Linked DNA regions of Homo sapiens: regions 2, 3, 4, 5 and 6 are each linked to region 1. The links come from fine-mapping of genetic effects on gene expression. A gene starts in region 1. Each other region holds a variant in brackets. All regions are shown on one strand. Distances are from middle to middle.

Region 1 (4,085 bases):
GGGGCGGCCCAGCCTGGGGCAGTCCTCACTTGCTGGCCGTGCCGTTGGACACCACATTTGCTCATGCTCTCCAGCTGGGCCCCCCACCCCTGACTCAGGGCTCTTGAACAAGTTTGCCTTTTCCCTCTTCCTTGCCCTACATCTCACCCATCATGATGTCTTCTACCTTCTACCCTTTCAAACTAGGGGCTCTTGAAGAGGACTGGGACCCAGACAAAGAGTATGACACAGCCTAAGTCATACAGTAAACATGTTTAGGAGGTAAGATGCCAAGCCAAATCCATGGCCACCAGTAGCCACAGTGGAGGAGGGGAGGTGTTAGTTGCTGGCCACCAGACAGGGGCATACAATATTGGAAGCAGAAAAATGCTTGTTGGCAAGAGACGGACATGAACAGAAGTGACTTTATATACAACCCCCTAAGCACACACAGGGTCGCCTTCTCCCTATCTCATGAACCCCAAGAAGAAAAGGATGAGGACAGCTTCCACAGCCTCACTCACCCATCCATCACTTCCTTCTGCAAATTCTTCGGATGCCCTGTGCTGGTCTCCGTGACCCAGTGATGAATCAGAAGGGGCCCTGCCCTCCCAGAGCTCAGGATCTAGAACAATAGAGGGTGACAGCCACTATGCTGGATTGATGTCATCTGAGGGAACTAAGGGGTGCACAGAAGGAAGTGATCAGCTCGACTGGGTGGCAGGCAGGGGAGGCTTTCCGGACACTGGGTGGAGGCTTGAAGAATGACTAAGAGCTCACTAGCCCGACGGGGATGAAGAGCATTTTAGGGAGTCCGAGGAGCAGGAGCAAACACCCCAAGGTGAGCGCCATGTGATGTATTCAGAAGGCAATGGAAAAAGGCCAGTGTGGCTGTAATGTATTGAACAAAGGGAAGAGTGGCTGGACCTGCAGGGATAGGTCGTCTCAAGGAGTCTGGCTTTTACCCTGAGAGCAATGGGAAGCCATGGAGGAGTTGCAAGCAGGAGAGCACCTGATCATATTGACACACGTGAACTTTTAACCTGACCTCCGTGTAGAGACTGAGGGAAAGGAAGGCAAGACCAGAGGCAGGGGGACACCAGCAAGGAGGCTGGTCTTCGGGGCCAGGTCTGGACTAGGGTGGTGGCAGCAGGCACAGGGAGAAGTGGGTGGACTGGAGGGCCATGGAAACACCACATTGGCAGGCCTTGATGAAGGAGAAGCAGCTGGTCCATTCTTTTGAGCCTACCACCCTGGTAGGCCAACTCCTGGCCAAGTCCATGCCATTTCTTGGGCTGGCTTAATTGTCTCCCTGTTTGGGAGGCCGTGGGGTGAGGGGTCTTTCCTCCATGCTCTCTCCATCCTTAGCCCCAGCCCAGGGCCTTGCACACAATAAAGCACTCGGTGAGCACCAACGCGTGACACAGGTACATCAAACCGCATTGGCTCTGGGAGTCTGGCTGTATCTCGTCGCCCAGCCTGGGAGATAGCCCCGTTTGCTGTGCCTTGTGAGCCCCGGGTCCGTCCCAGGATGGCCTTCCACGATGAGCGGCTCCCTCACTCTTCTCCTCCTTTCCTGCCTGCAGGACTTCCTGGATGATCTCAGCCGCCAGCCCCCCGCCCCCCTCCCCGCCCCTGTCTGGGATCTCCATCTGTAAAATGGATCTAGGAACGGTAGTTCTCGACTGAATTAACCCGACAGCATCTGTGGAAGTCGTTGGCCCTGTGCCGGGGCCAGATCGCGCAACTAGGAGCGGGGGCCCTTCACGTGGCGGAGGCTTCCCGGCCTGGGGGCCACGGGCCCGGAGGAATTTGCCTGGAAGTTTTCCATCACGGCAGAGCCTTCTGGAGCTCGCCCCGTGCTCGACAAGGGGAGCCCCAGACTTGATTTCTCCAGCAGCCCCGCGGGGCGGGGCCGAGAAGGGGCGGGCGGGCGGAGGACGCTGGCGGGAGAATGTGCGGAATGTGCCAGGCGCCTCTACCTACCCCAGGAGGGGCAGAGGAAGGGGCCGGCCGAGGGGAGGGGCGAGGGGCGAGGCTCCGGGCGGCCGGAGAAAACCTGTTTGTTCTCCTGCGGGCGGAGCCCAGTCCGCGCCTCCTCGCCTCCCTGCGCGCTCCCCGCTGTGCACCGCGCCCCGCGCCCCGCGCCTGCCTCCCCGGCCCGGCCCGGCCCGGCCGGGCGCCGTCCACCCGAGGGAGCCCGCGCCCTGCGACTGCCCGACCCTCCACCCGCCCCACGAGCCGGGCACCGGTGCCAGGTAGGGCTGTCGAGTCGCCATTGGATGCGGCCCTGCTTGGAGGCAGTGGGGGGCACCCAGTCCGTGCCCAGCTGGGGACAAGTCAGGGCCTCAGTTTCCCCATCCATAACCCTTACCAGCTCCAAGCATCTCTCTTCGGGTTCCCCCCGGGAGTCAGTGGATTTCTGGTTTTCGCTGTGAGTGAAAAGACTGACAGGCAGAGGAGGCCAGCGTCCCCTACAGAGGCAAGTGTCCCCCTTGCCAGCCTGATCCCTCTGTCTTGCCCTTTAGGAAAGACACGGTTTAATTGTTAGTAAACGGCGAGGGGCCAGGATGCTCTGAGAGTTGACTGCAGGCCTTTAAGAATCAGGGAATCTCATATCCCTCCGTCCCCCTGTGCCCATTTTATAGATGAGGAAACTGAGACCCAGAGGCTGGCTCACCCAGAGGATCCCCTCAATCGCCCTGGGGCCTGTGAGGTGCATGTGCTGGGTACAGGGCAATCTTGGGGAGGGCCATGAGGATGGTGGCTGCTCACACTCAGACAGAAGGCGCCGAATCAGGTGTCACTGGGTGTTATCGACAGGATCGGCACTGCACCAGCTCTGTGGCTGGATTGTTTTGATGGGGGCAGAGGGAGCCAAGAGTCTGTCCTCTTTGGAAAGGCAGAGGGATACCTTGCCTTACAAAAAGGCCGAAAGCTCAGGTGCTCCTGCCTGATCTGCCACTTCTGAGCTGGGGACACCTGGGTACTCTGTCGGTTTAAGGGGGTGACACGTCAAGCTGCCTCCCACCCAGGGCTGCTGGGGACTCAGATAAAGTAGGTGGTGGGTGTGTCCCGGCTTTGGGACATCTGAGGCATGGTAGGAGTTGTGTTCTTGCTGAGCCGTCGGCACGAAGCCTTGGCATCATGGGAGGCCCCAAAGCTGTGAGCCCCGAGAGAGGGCCTCTCACACCCCATCCAGCAGTGCTTGAGGCTTCAGTACCTGGACTAAGTCCTGCCTTGGTCTCATGGCCCTTCAGACTTCTGGCTGTCGTACCTGGCTGGGGGCGGGAGGCAGGGGTGCACAGGTTGATAGGCCTGAACAGAGCTGCAGAGGTCCTGCCTTCCCAGGGCCTCCGCTCCTCATCTGAAAAACAAGGGGCAGCTCAGAGGCCAGCAAGTGGCCAAGACACAGATGCACAGATGAGGGGCCAGCCTTCTGGCAGGCCTTGGTGCCTCCGCTGTTCCCCTCATCGCTCCCAGGCCACTTCAGGATGGGAAGGAACAGATCCCTCTCACCTGCCCCTCCTTCCAGCAATTCCCAGCCCCTGGCTGGATGCTGTGCATTCAGCCGTGTGGAGCTGATGGAAGGCACTCAGTGCAGGGCCAGACACGCAGCAGGTGCTCAAGATCTGTTCATTTCCATCCTCTGGACACTCATGACTCAAGCAACAGAGGTGGCCCAGGACCACTTAGGATGTTGCAGCTCCGAGTAGCATGAAAACATTAGGGGTTCCTCAGTCCTGGAGCAGCGAGGCACCCCTGGCTGGGAAGATCAGGGAAGGCTTCCTGGAGGCGAAGGGCTTGGAAGCAGGAGGAGGAGCTCGGCAGCCACCAGGTCAAGGCCCGCACGTCCTTTGGAGCTGCTGGAGTCTAACCTCCCCGTTACTCCTGAAAGATCATAAACCACTTCTTGCTGAGCTCCTGCATATGGGGGCCCACAGAGAAATCAGCTCCATGCCTTGCCCTGAGGAGTGACAGAGAGGCCATCTGTCAGTAAGAAGTTGCCATCTGAATCCAAATGGCAGCAGTGCTTGTCCACCTCACTTCCTGCTCAGCTCAAGTCCAGACTCCAGAAAAAGCCTTTCCCACGTGAGGCCAGTGAT
Region 2 (4,085 bases), 66 kb after region 1:
AATGAGCCCTGTGCTTGGAGGGTACGGGGTGAGGTGAGCAGGGGGCAGGAGCTGGGCCCTGTAGGGTCTTGTAGGTGAGGGAGAGGAGGCTATTGGGAGGGCTCCTATTGCTCACATTGCAGTCCTGGGGGGATGCCCAGGGCATTTTTTCTTTTTTTTAAGAGGCGGTGTTTCACTGTGTTACCCAGGTTGTTTTTGAATTCCTGGCCTCAAGTGATCTTCCTGCCTCAGCTTCCCAAGTAGCTCCAGGGAATTTCTGTTTTACCTTGCCTCTTCAGTTGCGCCGTCCCCTTCAGTATTCTGCTGACATGGATCACAGGATACCAGACACCTGGTAGTTGTTCAGTCAGTAGGAGGTCTTCCTTCCTTCCTCTTAGAATCAATCCTTTTCTCACTTGTTGGCTCTGCATTTTATCCCCCGTGTATCTTTTCAGATTTTTGTGGGGCCTCCTCTCCCATCCAGTCCACCTTCTCCAGTCTCTATGGTATATTTCTTTGTCATAGGGTGAAGCAGGAACAGGTACAGGATGATTGGGTACACTGAGGTGAGGTAGGAGGGCAGGCCCTCAGGAAGGGCTTCCCAGAGGAGGTGATATTGTCTGCAAAGGCATATGAGAGCCTGGAAGTCCAGGGGAACTGCAGGCTGGTCTGTACGGCTTGAGTGGCACGTGATACAGTTTGAGACTATGAGGCGAGAGAGCTAGGCAGATGCTAGACCATGATTGTTCTTCCCTTTCCCCACTCTTCAACTAGTTGTAATCTTAGGCATTGGATTCTCTGGCAAGGGGACAATACCCAGTAGCCTGGGCCAGATGGAGGCAGCCATATCTGGAGTATGATCTGAGCCACAGCATGTTGGAGAAAAGCCAGAATCAGCCCAGGGCAGTGTGCACCCATAGTGCTGGCCTCAGGCCTTTGGAGGGTGAGCAGACTTAAGTTGGAAGGTGCAAACAAGTGGTCAGTGGTGCTGCCCAACATCGTGCCCTGAACTGCAGTTGACAGCTACGGCAGCTTTGGTAATGAGGCTCATAGCCTGGGGGCAGGCAGAGTGAGAGCCGATATTGGCTTGGCCAGAGAAAAGCCCTTTTGGGCTGCCGAGGAGGTTGGATTCCAGGCCAAGGGCCATATCTGGCAGCTGAAGTGTGGAGGTTCAGAAAAACTTCGACACCGGTCAGTTTCCCGCCTCTGCTGGGAATGAGGTGCATCTGACTTTCCTCCTCAATGATGCCTAATTTCATTTGGTCCTCTGCCCCTTGGCCTTGTGTTCTCTAGAGAGTTCCCTGCAGGGTGGCAGAAGGAGCTGATCCTAGTAAGGGACCGTCCCATCCAGTGAGGAGGTGAGCTGGGCTGTGTCTTCCCCTTCTGCACCCTCCTGACTGTCACATCCCCGGGAGCCCCATGATTCCACTCTAACTGAGTGAATCACAGAGGCCAAGGCCCTTGGCTGCAGTCAGGAGTACTGAGTGGACACTGGAAGATTGGGGTCTTGCTACTGACTCACGATGTGACCTGGGACATGTCTCAACTCACCTAGCCTGGGTTTGCTTATCTGTAAAGTGAGAAGTTCCATTTGTTGGTCTTGGAGGAAGCTTCAAGAGCAGTGCTCAAGGGTTAGGCTCAGAAAAGCCTGTTTGACCCTGGAAGGTGTCAGCTCCCAGGTTGACGTGCCCACCCCTCCCTTTATTTCTTTCAGGGTGAGGAGCCCCTCGAGCTGCATGGTCACTGTTACTGTCACTGCCACATCTGAGCAGCCTCACATTTATATTCCAGCCCCCGCAAGTGAATTGGACTCCAGCTCTACCACGTAAGAAGGGCTATCTAGCAACCTGGGAGATGTTCCTCC[G/A]CCACTTCCTCCTTGGCGGTAAAGGACTTGGCTTTTGTTCCATGTTGCTTCCCATTTAGTGCCTTCCCCAGTTTCTAGCAGGCCATTAGCCAAGGGGCCACACAGGACAGTGTTAGTCCCCTAATATAAACTCCCATCTACCGGGCCTAGACATTCCCACACCTCCTTTTTCCTATCTCTGTAAGAGGCTGCAGTGGTACTTCCTAGTGCACTAGTGGATGTGGCTCTGCCATTCATGGGTCCATGCCTGGGAAGCCAGCTCCAGTCCGTGAAGGCCGGGCCTGTGAGGGCATTCCTGTGTTACTGTAAAGGAATACCTGAGGCTGGGACATTTATAAAGGAAAGAGGTTTAATTGGCTCACAGTTTGGCAGGCTGCACAAGCATGGCACCAGCAGCTGCTTGGCTTCTGGCAAAGGCCTCGGGAAGCTTATAATCATGGTGGAAGCCGAAGTGGGAGCAGGACCATCACATGGCACGAGCAGGAACAAGAGTGAGGAAGGGGAGGGCCCGGACTTTGAAACAACCAGATCTTGTGTGAACTAACTGAATGAGAACTCACTTTTCACTAAGGGGATGGTGCTAGCTGTTCATGAGGGATCCCCCCATGATCCCGTCACCTCCCTCCAAGCCCCACCTCCAACACTGGGAATCACATTTCAACATGAGGTTTGTCTGTCTCTGTCACATGCCCACTGCTTCACCTGCATTCCTGGCCACCTGTCAGGGTGCAGGAAGGGATGTCACTGCAGGAAGGCTGCTCAGTGAGGTGTGTGTGTTGGGGGCGGGAGGGGGGCATATCCAAGGGGGCCTCTGCAGACATCAGGTCAGCAGGCTGGAGTGTGCAGCATGGAAATGGGGGAAAATTTGGGGCCATCCTGAGCCCAGCATGATGCAGACCTTGTTTCCAGTCCTGCAGAGGCCAGTCCAGGATGAGGCAACCTCTAGGCCTCTGGACTCTAGGAGTGAGAATGGAGAGGTTAGATGTGAGGTGGAGATTGCACAGTAGCTGAGTACCTTCTGGGAAGTGCTGAGTGGTAAAGACTGACAGTGTAGGATTAAGGCTTGGAGGATATCTTGGTTGTGGGTAGAGGGGAAAGACGACGCAGCCCTAAAGTAGGGGTGGAAAGCCCACAGGACTGAAGTGTAGAAGTATAGAAGCCTGGGGAGAAGATGGGGTCACCGAGGTCTGCATGGAGGAGGACAGCACATTGTCATTGGTTGCAGGAAGCCCCTTTCTGGGGCCCTCAGTCCAAACACAACAAGAGACGCTCATGGCCTGGGATTGTAGTCTGAGTCCACAGCAGTGCCAGTGCCTTTATCCTGGGCCTTCCCATGAGCTCTTTCACTTCCTTCAAACCAGGCTGGGTCTCCCCAGCCCTGAACCACTCCTGTGGGCCAGGCCTGGTTCCCTGGAATCTTCTGGTGTACCTCTGATTTCTTCTGTGCTCCTTCTACAGCAAAGGGATTCTCTTCGTGAAGGAGTACGTGAATGCTAGTGAAGTGTCTTCTGGGAAGCCAGTATCTGCACGCTATAGCAAGTAAGAGCGGGTCCCAAACCCTTCCATGTCGGCCTTCTCCTGCCGGCTCCCATATTCTCATCCCTGCATTTCCAGTTCCTTGTCCAGGACTTGGCTCAGAGTAGCTTCGGGGTAATTGTCGAGTGGATGAGTGATGTAGTTGCCCTCTGATGGGATTGATGCATTTTCTACTGAACTGGGCACCTTTGGGTTCTCCCTTCCGGTGAATTCATCCTGCACACCATTTTCACTGCCATTCTGTTCTGCTTGTCTTTGTTATTTTATTTTGTAAAATGCTGAGAACACCCCTCTTGACAGAGCTGGCAGAGCCCTAGGGACCAACTAGCTCATCCTATTTCTTTTCAGATCACAGAGCTCTTCTCTTCTGCCCTCATGTTCTTTTCTGTCATGCCAGGCTGCCTCATTTGAACACACATGTGACTGCAGTTCCTGATACATGTGTGGCTTTGCTTTTTAATTTTAATTAATTAGTTAATTAATTTTAATTAATTTTTTTTTGAGATGGAGTCTTGCTCTGTTGCCCAGGCTGGAGTGCAGTGGCGCCATCTCAGCTCACCACAACCTCTGCCTCCTGGGTTCAGGCAATTCTCCTGCCTTAGCCTCCCTAGTAGCTGGGATTACAGGCGCCCACCACCATGCCCAGCTAGTTTTTGTATTTTAGTAGAGATGAAGTTTCACCATGTTGGCCAGGCTGGTCTCGAAT
Region 3 (4,085 bases), 21 kb after region 1:
GAGCTGGAGCAAAGAGGGCCCCGAGGGACAGGAAGGGGGACAGCTGGCTTCGGCTGGCTGCTGCCTGGGCTCTCCCCTTCAAGCCCTCATGCACCTTCCTGGTGGAGGCTGTTGAGGGAGATCAGGTCAGACCCCGGGCTGAGGGGAAGCCTCTGGCTCTGACTGGGGAGCCTCCAGCTTGCACTGGTTCAGCCCCAAGCACAGAGGATGGGAGGGCTGTCAGCTGAGAGCAGTGCTCCGTCGGCGCAGCACTGGGAACTGGCTGGCCAAGGAGAAGCTGGACTTTGGAGAGGCCATCAAGCTGCCTTCCTAGGCACCTGCCATGAGGAGTCACCTGGGGCACTTTTCCTGGGGGAGCATGAGGGAAATAGGCAGAGCATAGCGGGCACCTGATCAGGGGCACAGGGGGCTGGCACCCCTCGTTTCTGCTGTACTGGGACACCTGGAGCACTTGCCAGCCAATCTTATTTGCTATCGTTAAGGGCAGGATAAAGTAGGATGACCTCAGCCCTCCAGCAAGCCTCGCTTCACTCCACCCCTTCTTCTCTTCGGCAGGCCTCCGAGCACAAGGGCTCCCACTGGCTACATCATCCGGTAAGTGACCGCAGGACTCTGCCGGCCTTCCTGTGCCCACTCACGCCAAGCCCTGACTTCTTACCCCTCCAGTCCCTCCAGGGAGCTCACCGGCATCTCCTGGGCTCTCTTTCAGGGGAGTGTTCACCAAGCCCATAGACAGCTCTTCCCAGCCCCAGCAGCAGTTCCCCAAGGCCAACGGGACTCCAAAAAGGTATGTCCATGGGGTGTTGGCCAGTCGGCCAGTGGGGAGGTGTGAGGGCCTGGTCTGGGCTCCTGGCAGAGACAGTGCTCTGCCTATCAGGACTGTGGGGCCTTGGAGGTGCCAGCTTTCATCCTGGGTAGGGCAGGACCCTGGAGAGCAGGGTGGGGTGACCAGAGGAGATGGGCTGGGGTGGGACTGGCAGTCCCAAGTGGATGTGTGGGTCTCTGGGAGGTCCTGGGCCACTAACAGTGTCCTTGTCCTGGGGTCAGTCCTGACTAGGCCTGGCTAATGGGACAGAGAGGTGCAGGAGTTTGGGAGGGGCTGGGTGTAGAGTCCCCCTAGCCTGGCAGTGGGCACCCTTGACTTGACTTGCTGATGGCATTGAGAAGGCTGAAGTTGCATGCAATTCAAGCACCTTGGCATCAGGCATTGCCTGGGACTCCGTCAGACTGGAAAGGCCAAGGGGACCCGGAAACAGGAAGCAAAGACACAGGCAAGAGCCCGCTGGGCTGTTCCCTGAAGCTCGGTGGGGTTTGCCTACACAGCTGCTCTGAGTGGCGCAGTTCCGGGTGTCTGTCAGGGCCAAAAGCAAAGAGGAAAGGCTCCCAGGCAGCTCCTGGTCCACCTCTCATGTGTCCACTGGGCTGTGTGGCCAAATCTGGAGGCAGGAGGGAGCCTGCAGGTAGACACATGGAACCTTCTCCTCTCTAGTGCTGCCAGTCTGGTGAGAACAGCTAACGCTGGTCCTCCCCGCCCCTCCTCCTCTGGCTACAAGATGACCACTGAGGATTACAAGAAGCTGTGAGTATGCAACGCCAGGCTCAGCGTGGTTCCCTCCTCCAAGGAACAAGTCCAAACTCTGGGTCCACTGAAGGCAGCTGACTACTTGCCACCGAGCACAGCCCGGGAAGTCCCGCCTGCCTGACACTCCCTGCCAGTTGCAGCTGTGGCCTGGAGCCCACCAGAGGGTAACAAGCCCCAGAAAACTGGATGGCTGTGCACATTGCACGTCTGATCCGAGGCAGAGCGGAGACCGCAGGAAGCTTGTAGGAGGGGCCCCACGGATCTGGGGAAAGGGTCATGGGTCGTGAGGCTGCTGCTGGCTGGCTGTGCTTCCTGGGCTTGGCCCTGCACCCGGCCGAGCCTCAGGTGCTCTGCCTGGCTGCACTGGGCTGGGGGCCTGGGGATCCTCAGGGTGCTGCTGTCAGTCTGAGCATTGTGTGCCTAAATCTGAGCTGCTTCTTGGATAGAAACCTTCGGGTTTTCCCTTAGTGCTCCCCTTGGGGTCCCTTTCAAAGCCCCCCACCCCCCACTGCATGCTCAGGGAGGAGGGTTCTCTGGACAGAGGTGTGAATTGTGTCTCTAGTTCCCAGGGGACCACATCTTTCCGTTGTTTGTCCCTTGCCTCCATCATCCAGGGTTGGGGAGCTGCTGGGTAACCTTTCTGGGGAAGGGGAGAGGCTCGAACAGGGAGGGAGGGGAGAGCTGGTCTCAGGGAGGAACAAGTGGCATGACCTAAGGCCCAAAGGCAGAGATATTGACTTGC[C/T]TCGTCATTGTTGTTGAAAGCCAGGAAGCCAAGCTGCTGAGGGTGGCAGCCTATGACAGGAAAGCGCCTCTCCCCTCTCTTAGGGCACCCTACAATATCAGGCGCAGCTCTACATCAGGGGACACCGAGGAGGAGGAGGAGGAGGAGGTGGTGCCATTCTCCTCAGATGAACAGAAACGGAGGTAATGGAATGGTGCCTTTTGGGCATCCCGGGGGGCAGGGCAGGAGCCTGAGTCTTCGAAGACTGCTGGAATGAATTGTACTGGTTGGGGTGACAAAATGCACAACACGTAGGCCATCAGCGGTAGCCCACGGAGCATGAGAATAGGTGTCATTCTCTGAGTGCCAGAACCACCCACTCAGTGTTGGACCAGCTGAGGGGCCCTTGAGAACCTTCTGTGGGGTAGAACCTAGGTAATGTGGGTCCGGGGAAAAGCCTCCTCATGTGGAGGCTCTTCAGGGCTCTAAATCGGTTTGTTAGAAAGGGCCCTGAGACAGTTGAACAAAAATATTCAGGGAGAAGCCACCTGCACAGTGCCCTCTATCTGCATGATCTGCATGCCTTGGGGGTTCTGAATGCCCCGGACCCCAAACTGAGCTCCAGGCATGCACAGCAGTGGGAGTGTGCCCCATGCTGCTGAAATTCTACCCTAGTCTCTGCGCCAAGCTGCCCTCGTCCACACAGGCCAGCAAAGTTCCATGGACCCTTGCCCCTCCTCAGTCCTCTGTCCATGGGGACTGACCACATACCACCCAGTGCTGGTGAACTATGACAGGAAGGGTTTGTTAAGCACCTTTTGTATGCCTTTGGCTTGGGGCCTGTACAGCAGTTGGGCCCTGAGGAAATAAAGCCCTCCCCTCCCTGGGCTCAGCCAGCCACCAGGTCCATATCTGCTGACCCATCTGTGGCGCAGGAATCACAGCAAAGCCCCATTGCCAAAGGCCCTGGCAGATTGGCTATCCTCAGGGAACAGTTCACAGTGGCAGGGGCCCCCAGGCCTGGGTGGAGCAAGGAAAAGAGCCAGAAGCTAGGAGCTGCCTAGCATTGAATGCCAGCTCTGCCACCTGCTAGGTGAGTGCTCTTGGGCAAATAATGAAAGCTTCTTGGACTCAGTTTCCTCATCTGTAAATCACAGAGGATACTAGCGTCTACTTTCCTGGATTGAGAAGAGCAATAAGCCAATGCGAGGATGTTGGCATCTGGCGCAGAGCCGGGCACATGCCACATGCTCCATAAACATGGGCTGCCCTTCCTTCAGGTTCTACATTTCCTTTGAATAGTCCTTGGAGCAGGTGCAAATCTGGTTTCTCTCACCCCTTGCCTCCCTGGGGTGGCCCTAAGTCACCCCGAGTCCATCCCAGGCTAGGCTGGCAGAGCATGTCCAGCTTGGCACCCATCAGATGCTCCCCCATCCCGTGTCACCCCAGGTCAGAGGCTGCAAGCGGTGTTCTGAGGAGGACAGCTCCCCGGGAGCACTCCTACGTCCTGTCAGCGGCCAAGAAGAGCACTGGGTGAGTTGCCACCAACTGGCTCCAGGCTCTAGGACAGCTCTCCTCTCCTCAGAGCTCCAGCCTTCTCTGGCTGATGAAAGGGTGGGTGGAGAGATCACCCCCAAGGGCCTTCCTAGCTGAGCCTTCTCAGATTCTCAGATGTACTTTCTAGAAAATGGAGAGGTCTGGCGGCTACCACCAGGGACAGTGAAGTGCCGGGAATGGAGAGGGCCCAGGACCCTCTGAGGTAGAGCGGTCTTGATGTCACCT
Region 4 (4,085 bases), 38 kb after region 1:
TCTGAAGAATCTTCTAGATTTTCATGAATTTTAACCCAGTCTTTTACAGTTGTCTTACCTATATAGTAGTCCCTAGGTATCTGTGGGGGATTGGTTCCAGAACCTCACTCATATACCAAAATCCATGCATGTTGAAGTCCCTGATATAAAATGGTGTAGCATTTGCATGTAACCTATGCACATCCTCCTGTACCCTTTAAAGCATCTCTAGATTATTATAATACCTCATACAATGTAAGTGGTATGTAAATAGTTGTTATACTGTATTGTTTAGGGAATGATGACAGAAAAAAGCCTGTACATGGTCAGTACAGATGCAGCCATCCTATTTTAATTATTTTTCCCACATCTCATCTCATCCTCTCCTCTCCTCTCCTCTCCTTTTTCAGACAGGACCTTGCTCTGTCACCAGGGCTGGAGTGCAGTGCTGTGATCACAGCTCACAGCAGCCTCAACCTCTGGGGCTCAAGGGATCCTCCCACATCAGCCTCCCAAGTAGCTGGGACTACAGGCGTGGACCACCACGCCTGGCTAACTTTTGTATTTTTGGTAGAGACGAGGTTTTACCAGGTTGCCCAGGCTGGTTTGGAACTCCTGGGCTCAAGCAGTCCACCGACCTCAGCCTCCCAAAGTGCTGGGATTACAGGCATGAGCCACTGTACCTGGTCCCAAATATTTTCAATCTGAAGTTGGTTGAATCCACAGATGTGGAACCCACAACATAGAGGGCTGACCACACTTAGTTTGACTATAATTTTCAACAAACTCCTTTATTGTTTTTCCTTTTTTTTTTTTTTTGAGACGGACTCTTGCTCTGTCCCCCAGGCTGGAGTGCACTGGTGCGATCTCGGCTCACTGCAAGCTCCGCCTCCTGAGTTCATGCCATTGTCCTGCCTCAGCCTCCCAAGTAGCTGGGACTACAGGCGCCCGCCACCACGCCCGGCTAATTTTTTGTATTTTTTAGTAGAGACGGGGTTTCACCGTGTTAGCCAGGATGGTCTCGATCTCCTGAACTCGTGATCCACCCGCCTCAGCCTCCCAAAGTGCTGGGATTACAGGCGTGAGCCATCGCGTCCTGCCTTGTTTTTCCAAAGGAAAGGTTGTTTCTCATGGCAACAACCACTCTCCTTTTCCATTCATTTTCATGGATTTACTTAATCATCGAACTTAGTGATTCTTCTCCATTAGTGGCAGCTCAAAGAACTGAGTTGCTGCCCCAGGGGCCTTTCCTTGGATCTGCTCAGAGACATTGGTTTCAGAGGCCAGGGTCTGCTGTCCCCTTCTTGTGCAAATACAACTGGCATAAAGAGGTCTGGGACCAAACAAGAGCACCTCTTAGTGAGTGTGCTGGTTAGTGGAGGGCACAGGCTTGTATAGGCAGTGATTGTTCAGCATGCCGTGAGCATCAGTCTGCCTGGTTTACAGAGACACAGAGAATGTGACTCCACCCTGAGAAGGTTGGGTAAGACATTCCCCACTAAATCCATATTGAGTGGGTGAATACAGGTGGACTGGGAAGGTGCACTGCTTCTATAAACAGCCACTGGGCCCTGTGGTAACAGGAACACATTAGCACATGTTATGGCCCAGGCATTATTCAAAGTACTTGGCATCTATGAACTCATTTACTTTTCTCAGAATACTTACGAGACAGACATGATTAGCATCCCTATTTCATTGATGGTAAAACTGAGGCCCAGAAAAAAAGGTCAGGTAACATGCCCAATGTCACACAGCTGGGAGATAGCAAAGCCATGATTTGCAACGCCAGAGGGCAACCACTATGCCACAGAGCCCCAGGTGTCAGGCTGCCTTGAGATATAAATATTGTTCCTCAAGCATCCATTTGAGCAGCTTCTTGGTCCTCATCATCTGTGGGGGGCAGGATCCACTTTCTCGGGAGAGGGTAGACATACAGACACAAAGTCCTGAACCTGGACCAGGTCTGGCCTTCTTTCACAGGCTGTGTGCAGCTGCTAGCTTTGCCTCTTTCCTGGAAGACCAGGATGGGCACAGTGCCAACTCTCAGTCCTGCAAGCCTAGACCAGCAGCCATCAGGTAAGGTTAGGGCCACTGCCCTAGTGCCCTATCCCATTGCCAGACACAGCCTTTGGGGCCCAGCCTCAGCTGCAGCACCCCAGGATCCCCCTCGAACTTCTCAGCTCCATGCCACTTTCACATCAGGTGATCACAGCAAGACAGGGAACTCCAGGGGGAGC[T/C]CTGACCAGGGGCAGTGGAAGAAGAGGGATGGGTGATATGTCTGCTCACCCAGAGAGCCCAGCACCAACCTACATGGACCCAAGCTGAGGTGGCAGAGAGGAGGGCATCTGAAGGCAGAGCCTGGGAAGAGATCCTGCTAGGAGGTCTCAGAGAACCTCTGCTGTAGGGACTACAGCCAGGTTTAGCAAGCAGGAGTCAGGGAGAAGATTCCCAGGGGCAGCCAGCATTAGAGGGCTCAGTTCCCAGGAGCACAGGACCGGTGGCTGGGATGGGCAAAAATGGCTCCTGGGGCACAAAGGTACAATGGGAAGAAGCTGTGCATTCCCATGCTGTAAGCGTCTGCCCTGTTTCACCCACCAATCCACCAGTGGGCATGGCCACTTTGCTGTGGGTGTGTGGAGCATTTGGCAAGTCCTAGTAAGGAACGATCTTTCTTAACTCCCATAAACCCTACAGAGGTGTAGGTCAGGTAAGGATACGTCATGCTCAGGGTCAGGTTCCAGCCGCAGCTGAGGGCTAAGGGGAATGGGTGGACGTGGGGCAGGGAGCTGGAAGAACACTCGAGAGATAGCAGGTAAATGAGACATGGCTTTACTCAGCAGCAGCTCTCTTACACAGCTTTCTCAAACTAGCTTTCTCATTAGCAGCTTACTCTCACACCGTCTGCCCTGTCTTGGCTGCTTAGTCCGGTGGCCCCTACGCACAGCTGCGTGGCCAGCTCTCCCTTGCCTTCAGGGTCAGCAGCTTAATTCTTTCTCTCCCTGGGCACGGGCAAGCCAAGCTGTGTCCTGGCTCCCCTCTGTCCTGGCTCCCCTCTGTCCACCTGCAAAGACAGACAGCTCTTGCTCTCTCTCTTTCTCTAGGTTCCCGTGCACCCGCCATGTCAAGCTATGTTGAGCTGAGCCAAGCCCCAAGAGACATGTCCCCCATACACAGCGTCAACAGGGCAGTTATACCTTTTACAGACAATAGTGGTTTAGAGCCAAGTATGAACTTACATAAACAGGTTATATAAGAAGTGGAGGTGTGCACCTGTGCACCAGACTCATTGAGTCATGCAGGCCTGGATATCCCCCTCTGCCTATTCCTTGAACAAAGCACATCCAGGTACCTTACAGGATACTAGAACCCAAAACCAGGAGACTTCCCCAGGGAACCCAAGTTGGTCAGGGGCAGTGTTTGCTCTTGAACTCAGGTGCTAAGGCCATGTCCAAAGCTGACATGAGGTTGTCACACACAGTGGCATCGGTGCCACACTAATGCCAGGACTGAGACACCAGCCTTTACTGGAAGACACAGTTCCTCCCTTTCTGGTGAGAAGGCAGCCTGGAGGGGGAAGACCTGGGCCCCAGCCTTCTTTGGTCTGAGATCTCAGCAGGCCTGTGTTTCCTTCCTCAGCTCCAGTGCCACTTCAGTCTCTGCTGTCCCTGCTGATAGGAAGAGCAACAGCACAGCAGCCCAGGAGGATGCAAAGGCAGACCCAAAGGGGTAAGGCATGAGCAGACAGTGCTGAACTTCTGGGGTGGAGAGAGGCAGCTTGGGCTGTGTGTCCATTGGCCTTTGGCTGGGAAGGTGAGGCCAGCAAGGTTTGTGAGCTGGCCTGAGGCACATAGCAAGGGCAGAAGCCCCAACCAGAACCCTCTGGCTTCTGGGGCCAGGGAGCTTTCCACTAAACTGTTGCCTTGGCCAGGAAATACATCATAGTCAGAAAGGGTCTTTCAGTCAGCAACCACTCTGACAGCAACTGCCTTTTGCTGGAGGCTGGAGCATGCAGACAAATCAGAAACACCTCTGCCCTCCAGGAACTCTCAGGCAGGGGGTGGGCAAAGGCTGGTCCAGATTAGAGCAATACATGAGCGCTAGAG
Region 5 (4,078 bases), 280 kb after region 1:
TTTTACAAAGTGTAAGTCTGCCAGATAAGTGTGTAAATCAGTTAAACATCTGATAACCATTTATTTAATTTTTTTAGAAATGAAAACTGTATTGGGATTTTAGTTAACATAAAGTTCTTAACTTTTAGAAAAACATATTGAAGTATTTAGAGATGAAATGGAATGATGTCTTAGATTTGCTCCACATTATTCCAGCAGCTGAGATACAAGTAGGTGAGCCTCAAACTGGAACCAGATATGACATGTATTGAAGGTTGTTGATGCTGAGTGACAGGTGTTCTGGTTTCATTATGTTATTCTATTATTCAAGGTTTTTGAGGCGCTCCCTAAGAAAAAGTTTTTATCGCAAATTTCACACCGTTTAAAGTGAAATCCTATGTGAAACTGAACACTTTGCAGAAATAAAATAAATACATTTCCAAATTGGTCCAAAAAGGAAAAGAAAACTTAAACTATACAAACAGAAATGGTACAATATTCATAGCTCAAGCCACCCTCAAATGTTCCAGTCTAGGCAGTCTTGGAGGCCGATTGAACAAAATGATCAGGAAAAACTAACTACCATCTTACCTCAACTCTTCCAAGGCATACAAAATATAGACTATCGTTCAATTCCTTCTCCCAGACTTGCCCTCTTGGATACAAAAACCAGATGAGGACCACCCCCACCCATGGACAAAAACACATCAAGGAAGCTCTCATACATAACACCACATATCCTACATAAGTTAGTAGCATATTAAATGAACAAACAGGCTCTGCCCAAGGAAAGAAAATATGATTTATTGTTACAAAAAAGAAACGTATTTCATTGTAATTCCTTACATACAAAATGGAGAAGAAAAAGATAAGTGCTCATATCACTGGGTATAGGAAAAGCTTTTGAAGGAAATTCAATATGAGTTCAAAGTAAACATATTTAGTTAACTTCTTTTGAAAGAGAATTTCCATTTACTAAAATCAACAGCAAACATACATAAATGCTAAATGTTCGAGGACTTATTATTAAAGAGAGGAAAAATAATTAGATGTAAGGTATTATCTCCAGCTTTTAAATCAGTATTGAGACACAAAGTCAGAGCTATAAATATCAACATAAATAAGGAGTATGAATAGTGGAAAAAATATATAATGTTTAGTGATAACATGATCAGTCTTGAAAATTCAAAGGAGTAGGCATGTGGAAGATTCAAGTGAATGGGCCTTCAGAATGAGGTATACAACAGATTATAATAGCAAAATCAAAATCTTTGCCAGATGAAAGCAATCAGTAACTAGAACACTTAATATACAATATGCCTTTTTCAATAGCATCAAAATCCAAGAATTACCTGAAAAGAAGCCTAGTAAAAATGCAGAAGGTCTTTATAGAGGCAACAATCACAGTATACTGACAGATTCAAGTAAAAGGAGTTTGAAATTAATACATGAGGCTGGGTGCGATGGCTCATGCCTGTAATCCCAGTATTTTGGGAGGCTGAGGCGGGCAGATCACCTGAGGTCAGGAGTTCCAGACACACCTGGCCAATATGTTGAAACCCCATCTCTACTAAAAATACAAAAATTAGCTGGGTATGGTGCCATGCACCTGTAATCCCAGCTACTCAGTAGGCTAAGGTAGGAGAATCACTTGAACTTGGGAGGTGGAGATTACAGTGAGCCGAGATAGTGCCACTGCACTCCAGCCTGGTAGACAGAGGGAGATGCCATCTTTCTCTCTCTCTCTCTCTCTCTCTAT[A/C]TATATATATATATATATACACACACTCACACACACATATTATAGAGGAGCATAGCATATTCATTGATGAGAAAGAGAACACTGTAAAAATGTCAAATGTGCTTCAATTATGTACAATTATGTACAAATTATGTCTTACCTGTGGCTGCCAACGTGACAATCAAATTTGGGCTGCTGTTCTCTGCTTCACAAATCAACCCTGGAAAATTATAGAAGGGAAAAAGAAGGAGAAAGACACAATATCAGCAACAAAGTCTAAGCAACAAAATAGAGAAAGCCCTGGGTGATGCTGAAGATGGTTGAACTGGTAATTGTGTTTGACACTTGCAGTCTCGGTTGGAGGGGGGGTGGCAGCAGGGATACTGGGGAGGTCTGTACCCTGCCTAGACTGCAGTTGACAAAATGGTTACAATGAAAGTTTTCAAATTTCCACTTCACATCATTACACAGTCTGAGGCAGCTCCTCAAAACATGATGCTAGTAGCCCTAGGGCAACAGCAGGACACCAGTTAAACAGGGCTGGTTAAGACAGTATGGATCAAGAGTTCCACTAATAACAACCAGACACCAACATAGTGGGTGAGAAATTGTGTTTCAAAAAAAATTATTTCAACAGAACGTAAAGAATGGAAAAGAAGTAGAATAGGATATAAGAGTGAATCATGCATACTACTGGTAGGTATTCTTTCCTAGAAATAAATACATATATATATACAGCTACCTACATATATCCTTGGAAGATACGAAAAGTGTATTTCTTTTTCATTTTTTAAATTTTTTGAGACAGAGTGTCACTCTGTCGCGAGGCCCACGCTAGAGTTCAATGGCACGATCTCGCCTCACTGCAAACTCCGCCTCCAGGTGCAAGCGATTCTCACGCCTCAGCCTCCTGAGCACTACCACACCCAGCTAATTTTTGTATTTTGTGTAGAGACGGGGTTTCACCATGTTGGCCAGGCTGGTCTTGAACCCCTGACCTCAAGTGATCTGCCCGCCTCGGCCTCTCAAACTGTTGGGATTACAGGCGTGAACCACCGTGCCTGGGAGTAAAACATATTACTTTGAGGACAAAAGGTTTGCCAAGTGTAGCTCTGGCTGGAGAGAAGCCCCCGTGGGAAGGTGTGCGTCTTCTCCCAGAGGTCACTACAATCGCGGGAGCTGCCACTCTGCAGGGAGCACCTGGCCTGGGACCTGCAGCCATTCTCTGCAATGGGTGCAGCTGGGCAAATGCTCAGAGATGGCAGAAACAGCATCTCCCGCCCATGACTTCAACAAAGTGCCAGGAGCCGGGAGGAGGACCTTCCTGAGTGGGGACAGAGGGTCCACTCTCCCGACGTAGATGGGCCACAGAATGCAGCTCAGCCCCTCCTGTCAGCCCTGGAAGACCCTGGCAATGTTACCACGACCACACCCCCCCTCCCATTGCCACCTCATGGGACTGGGGGCCAGAGACTTGGTGGGAGAGAAGCAGACACAATCGGCAGAGAATATGGGTGTCCAGATTCTGCCAGGCATGAAAGTCAGGACCCTGAGGGGTGACCGAGGGTCCCCCAACCCCACGCCCAACCCCACTACCACCAACACGACGACTTAAGCCCCGGGGCACCACTGGCATCCCTCCCCCTACCACCCCCAATCCCTCCCTTTACGCCACCCATCCAAACATCTTCACGCTCACCCCCAGCCCAAGCCAGGCAGAATCCGGTTCCACCCCTGCTCTCAACCCAGGGAAGCCCAGGTGCCCAGATGTGACGCCACTGACTTGAGCATTAGTGGTTAGAGAGAAGCGAGGTTTTCGGTCTGAGGGGCGGCTTGAGATCGGTGGAGGGAAGCGGGCCCAGGCTCTGTAAGGAGGCAAGGTGACATGCTGAGGGAGGACTGAGGACCCACTTACCCCAGATAGAGGACCCCAAATAATCCCTTCATGCCAGTCCTGGACCATCTGGTGGTGGACTTCTCAGGCTGGGCCACCCCCAGCCCCCTTGCTGCTTAAACCACTGGGGACTCTGAAGTCAGAGCTCGTGTGATCAGGGAAGGGCTGCTTAGGAGAGGGCAGCGTCCAGGCTCTGCCAGACATCATGCTCAGGATTCTCAAGGAGGGCTGAGGGTCCCTAAGACCCCACTCCCGTGACCCAACCCCCACTCCAATGCTCACTCCCGTGACCCAACCCCCTCTTCATTGTCATTCCAACCCCCACCCCACATCCCCCACCCCATCCCTCAACCCTGATGCCCATCCGCCCAGCCATTCCACCCTCACCCCCACCCCCACCCCCACGCCCACTCCCACCCCCACCCAGGCAGGATCCGGTTCCCGCCAGGAAACATCCGGGTGCCCGG
Region 6 (4,085 bases), 640 kb after region 1:
GGCCTGACCTACGAGGCCTGGGCCACACCTCTCGCTGTTGCCTTGGCTTGCTTTTCCTCTCTGGGTTCTGCCGGGCCTGGCCTGTGTTCTAGGAGCCTGGAGGTGGAGAGAGATGGGGGACTATTGTTTTAAGGAATCCCCGTAGTGAGTCACGTCGCTGAGTGATGGGCCCTTCTGAAAGGCGGGCCCTTGCTTGGTGGGTCTGTAGGGAGCAGGTGACGGACAGTCTGCCTTCAGGAGGGCCCACGGTGGAGGGCATGTGCCCAGGTAGGCCCCCAGGCGTCCACCTCCTGCCCTCTGCCCCTGAGTTCTGCTTCCTTCTTGCTTCGGGGCCACGGCATCCTGGGCCTGGCTCTGGCTTCCAGATGGTCTGAATGCCCAGGAGCCGCATGTTCTCATCACTGAGGGTCCAGTGACTAGGGAGTGACTCGGGAGCTGGGACTTCCTGGCAGTACATGCCCCATCATCCCTGTGGGGATATATGTCCACGCAGACCCCAGAAACTGAAGGGGTGCTCGACTGGGGTGCAGTGGGGCTGTTTTCAGGAAAGAGAATGGCGTGAATCCCGATGCGTGCATCACCTGAGATCTGGAGGACGGTGGTGGGATCTCGCCCTCCATCTGTTCTCTCCTCCATAAAGGCGGAGCAGGTGGCCGAGTGGAATGCAGCCTGGGCCTGCTGGGGAGGCTTTCAGGGGTGTCATCAGAGCGTCCCAGCAAGGGCGGCCATGACCCACCTCAAGTCACATGGAAGGCAGGGCTGGGAGAACCAGGGCAAAAGCAGGAGGCTTCCTGAGCCTCAGTTTCCCCCTCTGTAAGGCAGGGAGAGTTCTCCTGGCCCTCGTAGGGTGTTTCCAAGGGTGCAGTGAAAGAAACATGTCTGTCAAGAGCTGGCATGCAGATGTGGGCTCAAAACTCAGTGTGTGCCATGGGGTCCTGAGAGGGGCCCCATGGGAGCGGGGGTGCCCCCTACTTAGAAAGTGCCGAGCCTTCTGGAGCATGCTGGGCTGCCCAGGGCCTGGAGGAAGTCCATGGGGGACTAAGCTGGAGGTGCCAGCAGAGCCCCCAAAGCCAGGGAGGGACAACATAGGGGAAAGAGGACCCCTGGGTCTCTGGTCAGGTGGGTTTGAGTCACTGGGTGGGGAGTAGGCACTCTGAGCCTAGTTGGGAGGTGAGGGTCTCTGGGCCCTGCTGAAGAGAAGAGTCCAGAAGGCGGTTGAGTAATGGGCCTGGACTTGGGCCATCCCCTCCAGCAGCCCCTGGAGGCAGCAGCCAGGGACCCCCCTGGCTGTCTCCCACCACGAGGCCGGCCAGTCTGTGCGGGGATGGTGCAAATGCCGGAAGGTGCGAGGCCCCCTCTGTGGAGGTTCTCATTTCAATGAAGCCAATTAAGGTCAGAAAGATGAAAGAGCACAGAAATGGTATGTTCCCTGCCCTTTTGGTGCCTACAGACCATTCTCGGCAGCCAGCCCAGGCCGGAAACTCTGTCAGGCCTGCAGAACTGATAGGCCTAGTCACTTCGGTTCTTGGCCATCTCGGCGATGGCTGCTGTCTTTATTGGGCCTCAGGGAGGCCA[C/G]CGCCCAGGCTTATATAGAACCCAGAAAAGCAAAGTATATGCCATTTGGTCTGCACAGCAGCCAACAGTCGCTCTAAATGGGCCTTACTCTAACTGATGGATCCTGTCTGCCCTATAGCCTGTTGCATTCATGAAGACAGTGAGGGTTAGCAGAGCACCCCGACCCCACCCTGTCCTCCAGGATGGAGACTCCACCTCCCAGGACTCCAAGTTCCTCCCCTGTGGGCCAGGCCCCCATTCACTCATTCCTCCAGGCCCCCGGCCACATGCGGGACTGACCACGCGGTAGACTTCCTGCCGACTCCATACCACGTGTCTCAAAGAGCTTAGGGCCCAGCTGGTGGGAGACAAGCTCACAGATCATCGCAGCGCCAAGCAGAGTGAAATAGGAATGGGTCGCGGGATTATAGACTCAGGCGCAATCAGTTTTGGCTGGGGAACTGGCAGAGACTCCTGGAGAATGTTCCACTTGAATTGTGACTAAGAGGATTCATCGGAGGTCAGCAGGTGGAGCTGGAACAGAGGGCGTGCGGTCGGGGCTCAGAGCTGGCAGGGCTGTGTGGCTGGGGTGGGAGTGGGGCTGGGAAGTGCTCAGAAGGAATCTGGCCTTTTGCTTGATGGGGATGGGAGACTGAAACAGGGGCTCGCTGGAGTGATGGTGCCTGAACCAGGAAAGTGGTGACTCACAGCAGGGTCATGACCAGTTGCTGGACTAGAGAGAGACCTAAGAGGTGGTCCACAGGACGTGGAGCTTGCTTGCTGAGGGGTGGGGATCCTGCAGTGGGGAGGGCCAGCAGGGCCAGCCGAGGAGAAGGAAGTTGGCCCCGGGACCATGGCAGAGGGGAGGACTGCCTCCTTGCCCACTGCCCTCCCCATGAGTCACTGTGGGTCCAGTCAGACACAGCCATGGCTGCACCAGTCAGGAGCAGCTGTACGACCTGGTATGGTTCTGTCTGGGCCACCGCTGTGGGGTCAGGGGCAGGGACCGGGTGGGGGAGGACAGAGCTGGCCTTGGGTATGCCATGGTCAGAGGAGGGAGGATGAGCACATGCCAGGGGAGGGCCACCAGGCCTCGGTGACCGTGCCACGAGGAACCCCTGCTCTGAGGAACAAGCATTTCTGTCATGGCCGTGTGCCACCCAAGAGCCTACCACACAAGCCATTCACTCTGTCACCCGCTGGGGGCACAGAGCCTGAACCTGACAGTGGCACAAAGTTGCTACATGGTGGGATTGTTGAGGCATGAGGTGACTGGAGCTCAGGAAGGCAGGGAGAAGGCGCCCTGGCAGGTGCACCGTCACAAGCAAAGGTCCTGGGGTGGGGAGGGGAGGCTGTCTCGAGAAGACGAGGAGTCCAGGTGAGAGCCGAAAGCTGCCATTGCTGCCTTGAGGGGTCAGAAGTGGGACACCCAGCTGTCCTCTGGCTCTGCCACTTCCCCAAGCCAGCCTCAGTTTCCCGCATCAGAAAAGCAAGGGCAATTCGTCCACACAGCACCCCCAGAAGGAGCCCGCCTCACCTGGGACAGCTTCGCTTGCTGTCCTGGCCCCCTCTCCTCAGCTTTCACTCCTTCTAGTCTTTTCCCCCCAATGCCTGTCCCCAGACGCCTTGCCTCACCTTTGCCCCAGCTGCAACCCCACAGCTCTTGGCCCTCGGGCCTGCTGTTCTCCCTGTCCCAGCTAGAGAGGGACGGGGTTAGTTGAAACTTGTTGAGCACCTGTCCCAGCACATCAAGCCAGTGCCAGGCATGTAGTAGCTGCTCGGTGAATATGTGTCAGGTGACCAACTGCAAGACAGGGCGGGGAGAGGTGGGGAGAGAGGACGGCACAGGCACATGGCCATCATTTTGTCCCCACATCTCCCAGAAGTGAAGGCTGCTTCATGTGCAATGTGTCGCGAGAGTAAACGCGCAGGTGCCCACGCTTTTCAAACATGGGTCACTGTGGATGGATGTTTCGTGAAGTATCCACCAGGGCCTCTCCTGAGAATAAGGCCATGGACTTGGCCGTGTCTGCTTTGGCTGCCTGAGGGCTTTCTCCCCTTTCTTCAGGGCTCTGGGCCACTCGTTTCCAACGGATGCTTCTGAGCCAGGAGCTTCCCCAGAGACGGGGGTTCAGGGCCCTGCTGAGCTGCCAGGAGGGCTCTTGGCTGATGTCAAGGCCAGGCCATGTGCACTGAGGCCATTTCAGTTCCATGAGGATGTGACAGGCTTAGCTCGGGCCGGGAAGGAGCGGAGAGAGAGGAGCTGCAGTGGGCCCCGCCAAACACTGTGATGGCTGCAGAAGGGGCAGCCTGGGCCCTAGCGGATCCTTGGGTAAGGTGACGGGGACAGGGAGAGGGATGACAACTTTGCGATGCTCGGCAGAGTGGGGCCAGGGCCGTGGCCTGGATGCTTTCAGTGTGGGGAGACTTTGGCTCCTTACTTTGTCATCTGGAGGGAAGAAGAGCGTGGAGGGGAGTGGGTGGCACCATGCTGTGGGCTGGGACGTTGGCAGACTCACCAGCGACCTGTG

Alleles and levels. Alleles are on the strand shown, and positions count from the first base shown. SD is a standard deviation of normalised expression in the study named. Not every link is listed here.
For the expression in pancreas of the gene that starts at base 2,066 in region 1, C is the high allele of the variant in region 6 and G is the other (large effect, 0.90 SD a copy in GTEx).

Evidence for each region.
Region 2: its variant is fine-mapped to the expression of ZNF185 in whole blood (TOPMed, PIP above 0.99).
Region 3: its variant is fine-mapped to the expression of ZNF185 in whole blood (TOPMed, PIP above 0.99).
Region 4: its variant is fine-mapped to the expression of ZNF185 in whole blood (TOPMed, PIP above 0.99).
Region 5: its variant is fine-mapped to the expression of ZNF185 in skeletal muscle (FUSION, PIP 0.95).
Region 6: its variant is fine-mapped to the expression of ZNF185 in pancreas (GTEx, PIP above 0.99).

The regions. Positions count from the first base shown.
Region 1 is chrX:152,896,002-152,900,086 of GRCh38, forward strand. It overlaps ZNF185 (zinc finger protein 185 with LIM domain), which reads left to right and starts at 2,066. Exons shown (of 25, transcript NM_001395254.1): 1 at 2,066-2,237. RefSeq lists an enhancer at 1,318-1,818.
Region 2 is chrX:152,962,146-152,966,230 of GRCh38, forward strand. ZNF185 (zinc finger protein 185 with LIM domain) reads left to right here. Exons shown (of 25, transcript NM_001395254.1): 20 at 1,694-1,804; 21 at 3,302-3,382. Among named protein-coding and RNA genes, the nearest start is that of PNMA5, 30 kb to the right of the region's middle. The variant G/A (reference allele first, on the strand shown) is at 1,844.
Region 3 is chrX:152,916,576-152,920,660 of GRCh38, forward strand. ZNF185 (zinc finger protein 185 with LIM domain) reads left to right here. Exons shown (of 25, transcript NM_001395254.1): 5 at 556-594; 6 at 710-787; 7 at 1,490-1,579; 8 at 2,408-2,506; 9 at 3,753-3,836. Among named protein-coding and RNA genes, the nearest start is that of ZNF185, 21 kb to the left of the region's middle. The variant C/T (reference allele first, on the strand shown) is at 2,325.
Region 4 is chrX:152,934,456-152,938,540 of GRCh38, forward strand. It overlaps ZNF185 (zinc finger protein 185 with LIM domain), which reads left to right. Exons shown (of 25, transcript NM_001395254.1): 16 at 1,963-2,058; 17 at 3,619-3,708. The region is part of intron 1 of LOC105373372 (a long non-coding RNA gene); the gene reads right to left. Among named protein-coding and RNA genes, the nearest start is that of ZNF185, 38 kb to the left of the region's middle. The variant T/C (reference allele first, on the strand shown) is at 2,220.
Region 5 is chrX:153,175,174-153,179,251 of GRCh38, forward strand. No RefSeq gene overlaps it. Among named protein-coding and RNA genes, the nearest start is that of MAGEA1, 2.1 kb to the right of the region's middle. The variant A/C (reference allele first, on the strand shown) is at 1,739.
Region 6 is chrX:153,531,301-153,535,385 of GRCh38, forward strand. The region is part of intron 2 of ATP2B3 (ATPase plasma membrane Ca2+ transporting 3); the gene reads left to right. Among named protein-coding and RNA genes, the nearest start is that of ATP2B3, 16 kb to the left of the region's middle. The variant C/G (reference allele first, on the strand shown) is at 1,576.